2 separate regions of the Homo sapiens genome follow, and region 1 is linked to region 2. Evidence: fine-mapped expression QTL. Tissue or cell type: whole blood. Region 2 holds a variant in brackets; the other region holds the start of a gene. All regions are shown on one strand. Distances are from middle to middle.

Region 1 (2,906 bases), 25 kb before region 2:
CCGGGGGCAGGACTTACGCAGTGGCTCTCGGCCGTCTTGAAGTCCCAGCTGACCCTCTTGGCGCGCGCCTGGATCTCACTCATTCTGAAGAGGCAGAGCGCCGTGGTGGTGGGGGAGCGCCGCTCCTGGCCCTCTCCAGCGGCCGCGCTGAACACTCCCGCCCAGACGTCCAGGGCCTCCACTAGGCTGGAGGAGAGGAGCAGGCGGCGGCCGTCGGGGTGGCCGTGGCCGCAGTCGAGGGATGCCTGGCCCTGGAACAGCACCTCGGTGCTCTGCGCGATGCGCGCCATGCTGGGCCAGCCGGTGGCAGCGCCGCTCGTGTAGTTGTAGGGGTAGTAGGGGAAGTAGATGCTGCCGTTCCAGAGAAAGGCGTCCACGAAGTGCAGGCTGCCCGCGCCCTCGCACAGCTTGAGGCGCCCCAGCTCCTGCGTGGCCAGGCTGCGCCCCTCCGTGTCCTTGAGCGCGATGGCCGTGTCGTGGTCGGATGCCGCGGGGTTGCAGCGGCTCGCCGTCTCCGGCTCAGGCAGCACGTAGGTGGCGGCCACCGCCAGGTACCAGCGGTTGTTCCGGCCCGCGCGGTACACCACGCCGGCCGTCGAGCCCTGCGGGTGGCACGACACCACCTCGGTGCCGTTGCGCAGGGAGTTGCGGCTCAGGTTGCCCAGGGGCCGCACCTCGCAGGCGCCCCGGTCGAAGGTCCAGCCGGTGAGCAGCAGCCCCCCGAGGCCGGCCGCCCCCTCGCGGTAGGGCAGCAGCAGCTTGCTGAAGCTGCTCCCGGGCCGGGGCCGCGCGGGGGGCGCCAGCGAGACCGGCTCTGTGCAGTTGCCCGCTTGGTCCCGGTACAGGCGCGAGAGGCTGTGCTCCAGGCTGTAGTCCAGCTGGTCCAGGCAGCTGCCGCTCGCCACAAACACGCCGTCCTCCTGGCTCGCCGCGATGGCTCCGATGGCTTGCTCCGACCGCCACACGGGCTCGTCCGCGCCCCGGCCGGGAGCCGCCAGTGCCAGCAGATAGGCGAGCAGGGGCAGTGGCGCTGCGGGGCGCGGGGGGCGCGGCGGCGCCTTCCTCCGGGAGACCTCCATGGGGCTGGGGGGGCCGCCCCCGGGCAGGGCGCGCGGCGGCGACGGCGGCTCAGGCGCGCGGCAACGGAGACGCGGGCGGCGGCGGCGGCGGTTCCTGCGCGCGCTCGGGCTCCCGCGGCCGCCCCATCCCCGCAGCTCGCCCAGGAAGGAGAGCGGGGAGGGCGGCGCGCGGCAGGCTCGCTCCGGCAGCCTGTGCAGCGGCGGTGGCGGCAGCAAGCCCTGCGCGCTCCGGCACCGTTTCCTCCTCGCCCTCCTTCGCCGGAGAGTTCCTGTGTGCAGCGCTGGCGCTCGCGGGGAGGCGCGGAGGGGAAGGGAGGGGACGGGCGGAGAGGAGCGAGGCGGGCGGGGAGGGCTGGAGAGGTTGGGTGCGCTTGTGCGTTTCACTTTCCCATTGTGAAAGTGGGATGCAACTGGCCCCCTTCCTCATCCTCTCTTCCTCCTCCGCCCTCCGCCTCCTGCCCGCCCGCCCGCCCTCCCTCCACGCCCATCTCCCCTCCCCTCTTGATTCGGTGAGATAGGGAGGAGGGAGGTCTCGTAATTTGGGTTACTGTGTAGGTGGCCTCTTTCATCTATTCATAACAAAGCTCAGCCGCCCGCCGCGGCCGCCGCGGCCGCCACCATCGCCCCCTTGGCTCGCCTGGGGCTCCCGGGGCGCGCTAACGGCGCACGGAGCGGGCTCCCGCGCCCGTCCGCCCGCGGTGCTGCTCCAACGCCCGGTTTTGTTTACGACAGCAGCCGGGTCGGGGATACGCCAGGCGCGCGGAGCGAGGATCCAGGGTGCGAAGGGGTTGCAGCTGAGGCCCCGGGCTCGGGCCACAGGGCTGCTGCGAGAGCGGCTGACAGGTGTGGAGCGGCGAGAGGGAGGCCCCGGGGAGGCGCGCGGGAGACATGGCCGAGCCGGAGACTCCGGGGACCAAGGCGCCCCTGTGACAGGGTGTGGGTTTCCCCGGGTCGGATGAGTGAGGTGGCAGAAAGGCAGGCGCCACACTCTCGTTCTGGACAATCCCCAGGGCCGGAGCGCCCATATTTGCAAAGGTTCTCTAATCTCCCTTGGCAACAGAGTCCCAGGCTCTCAAGCCTAGCACTTGGAAAGTTCTGCTCACCATCTAACCTAATGAGCGGGGCTAACATTTACTGAGCACTTACTACGTGCCGGGTGCGCTTGTGAACTCACCACATGGGTTAAGACTCATAATTCTCATAACAGCCCTATTAATTAGTGACTGTTATTGTCATCCCTACTTAGTAGTCCAGGAGAATGGTTATAGAAAGGTTGTGGAACGTGCTGGCATTCTACTGCTGGTAGATATCAGAGCCGAGATTCGAATCCATATCTAGCCCCAGGGCCTCTTACATACCTGGCTCTAGTTAAGTGCCACCTGTGGCCATTGCCATAATCCCCCAGAGATCATTCTCTGTAGTGAGACTGAAAAGTTCCTCAAGTTAAATGCACCAACCAGCCCCCGCCCTGCTTTCTACTATTAGACCCAAGTCCCCGTATTTCCCTCGAGGCTCTCCATCTGTCTCATCATTACCCACTTTTATCCTTTGGACCCCCTGAGGTCTCACCACCTCACCCAGAGGGTGAATAACAGCTGGGTTGCCCCCACAGCCGCCAAGAATTTCTGAAGCACAGGGAATCATTGCCCACTGGGGAATAGGTTCATGATTTCTCGGAATGGGGCTTCCCAGAGGATGCACAAATGCCTCCCAGCTTCCCGGGGCAGCTGCGGGCACCATCAGCACCCTTACAGTCTGGCAGATGAGCCAGGGGGTGCATAGGAGTGGAGGGTGCTGAGGACCTCTATGGATCGTTGGGAAATGATC
Region 2 (2,906 bases):
CAGCTATTTGTGTGGTTTTTTTCCTTGACTTTGAATTTTTGGAGCTGGCATCTCCAGAGTCATGCCAGGCAATTAGCAGGTTCTTAATAAACCTTTGCTGAATCGAAGGGAATTCGGAGAAGTATTGCTGATGAGGGAGGATACAGAAAGGGATTTTTCTATAAAGCCTGACCAGCAGTGTTAAAAAAGTTTTCCACCAATAACATTAATAATGGATTTTTTAAAAGAAACAAGCTTTTACAATTTGCAAAGTACACGGAAGAAGTCTACTAAAGAGGCTCTCAATGAGCAGTGTAAAGGTCAGAAATAAACAAAATTAAGTCTGCCAGAAGTCTGAAAATTGTCACTGTGCTATTATTGATGAAATTACTAATTCCAATAATAATCGTGGCCATTATTGCATAGTGACTTGTGCAGTTTCTTCATCTGTGAAATAGGGACATGAATAGACCCTCCATCCTTGGGTGGTTATGAGGATTAAATGAGTTAATGCACATAACACACTTCCAGTAGCACCTGGCACATGAGAAGTGTTAGTTATGCCAGGTGTGGTGCTGAGTGCTTCTCGTACTTTACTAGTGGAAATAACAAAGAAGCCAGGATGAAGCGAAACCTTAGGAGCTGGGAAAAAGGAGAAGGGTCGAAACTTATGTTCTAGAGTTTTCATGTCTTAGTCTTTGTATGATTGTTGCTGCTGCCTGGCGCAACCTTCCGCAGGCTGGCTCCCTCTCATCCTGCAGGTCTCAGCTTAAAAGCCCAGCTCAGACATGCTTTCCCTCACTCACAGTCGAAAGTTGCGTCCCCTATATTATTCCCTCTTTCCACACAGTGTTTCTCTTTAGAACACTTAACACTGTGTGTAATTGCATAGGAATAGTTTATCTAGCTAGTGAATTCTCCAACACTAGCCTGTTCACTCCACGAAGGCTAGTTGTGTTTACTGATTATCCTCGATTCCTAGCAAATTGCCTGGCACATACCAAATGCTTAATGAATGAAATGAAACTGTACCTGTTGTAAAAAATGAATGAATAAAAGTATACCTGTTGTAAACAAATGGAATAAATGAATGTATCAGGGTTCCCATTATACCCAAGGTCACTTCCAGGCAGCATGGCATCCTCTTGCTCTACAAGATACTTCTCTTTTGAAAACACATCAGCACTTAGAAAAGTGACCCTACTCCAAACTTTGTAATTTAACACTGGATCCTCTGATAGCTTCTTCCAGGATCCTAAAGTTTGTGTGTCCCATCTCCAGAGAATGTTCAGCCACTCCTACATCACTATATACTTCCTGATTTTCATCAGGCTTACAGAGACAGGGGTGAGAAAGTAGGGTAAAGTTACTCTGATAGTAGCTGAGATATGAAAGTGGAGGAAGGGAAACTATAGAATTTGAGAATTCACTGCCCTTTTACTAAGAAACACTTCTTTTTTTTTTTGAAACTTCTAGGGTGGCAGGAAGTGCATGCCCAAACCTCAGAGT[C/T]TGGGGCAATCAACAGTACCCTAACCTCCCTGAACAGGTTCAGACACCCAGGGCTGGGTATAGGAATAGCCCAGATGTTTTTAAAGTTAAGACCTGAAGTGGAGAAAAGGAAAAAATGAAGAAAGAGCTCCAGCTCCACAGGGGATGTCCTGGGATTAGTAGGGACAACACAAACAGAGCTCAGGGAAGGAAGACAGAGAGAAAGGGGAGGGGAAGTTTTTTGTTTTCAAAGTGTAATGTAGAAAAAAAAATAGCTCTGGCTGGGCGTGGTGGCTCATGCCTGTAATCCCAGCACTTTGGGAGGCCGAGGCGGGTGGATCACTTGAGGTCAGAAGTTCGAGACCAGCCTGGCCAACATGGTGAAATCACATCTCTACTAAAAATATAAAAATTAGCCAGGTGTGGAGGTAGGTGTCTGTAATCCCAGCTACTCCTGAGGCTGAGGCATGAGAATCGCTTGAACCCGGGAGGTGGAGGATGCAGTGAGCCGAGATCGCGCCACTGCACTCCAGCCTGGGCGACAGAGTGAGACTCCACCTCCAAAAAAAAAAAAAAAACTCAAAAAAAACAAAAAACAAAAAACAAAAAACAAAAAAACCCCACAAAACTCCTCACCTTAAACTGACCAAGAAGAAGCCAGACTACTACTTCCACTTTTATGTTGTGGCTGGCAGACCACAAGGAGCCTGCTCTGGAGAGGGCGGAGAGGGAAAGCCCAGCTGCTGCTCACTCAGCCCCTTTTTGACAGAAGACTTGTCCCCAGATCAGGGATGACCAGGGAAGAGATCAGTGGACAGGGTAAATCCACAGCCATTTGATGTAGGGACATTTTAATTTGGGAAATCAAATGCAGGAAAGATATTACCTTACTGTTCATTTCAAGCATCTCACACACACCATTAAATGCCCCAAACCAGGCTACTATTGAACCTTAACCACATACAAATGACATATTTACCCAAATACCCCAACATGCTAACAATCCTTTCTGGGTTGCATGTAGCCCAAACTGCCCCTGTGTGTGAATTACAAAAGGCACACTCCCACCCCTTCTTCAAGACACTTGGCTTACTTCTGTTGGAAAATTGTTGTCATGGGCTGATTTATTAGAATAAGACACATGACTATCATCTGCCAGAAAACTATCATAATAAATATACAAACTAACTGTGTTTACTATCAATGATGGTCCTTTAGATGTGGTGCCCTTGTGCAGAAGTCAGTTTGAAATAGAGAAGTTTGAAATAGTTGTATCAAGGCCATCAAAAGCTTAACTTCCTTGTCCCAGTATCCTTATTAATGCTTTGCAAAATCATGATCCTTAATGCATTTCTCGTCTTGCTATGGTCAACTTGTGATACACTGAATGAATAAAATAGAGCGAACAGAAATGAAGGATCTGTTTGTCAGATCGGTTA

The links. PIP is the estimated chance that this variant, and not a neighbour inherited with it, causes the effect.
Region 1: it holds the start of PLXNC1, and the variant in region 2 is fine-mapped to the expression of PLXNC1 in whole blood (TOPMed, PIP above 0.99).

Annotation. Positions count from the first base shown.
Region 1 is chr12:94,147,145-94,150,050 of GRCh38, reverse strand. It overlaps PLXNC1 (plexin C1), which reads right to left and starts at 1,474. Exons shown (of 31, transcript NM_005761.3): 1 at 18-1,474. The coding sequence starts at 1,079. RefSeq lists an enhancer at 348-447 and silencers at 648-887, 1,018-1,247, 1,318-1,567, 1,578-1,707.
Region 2 is chr12:94,122,611-94,125,516 of GRCh38, reverse strand. All of the region lies in intron 1 of LOC124902986 (a long non-coding RNA gene), which reads right to left. Among named protein-coding and RNA genes, the nearest start is that of PLXNC1, 25 kb to the left of the region's middle. The variant C/T (reference allele first, on the strand shown) is at 1,489.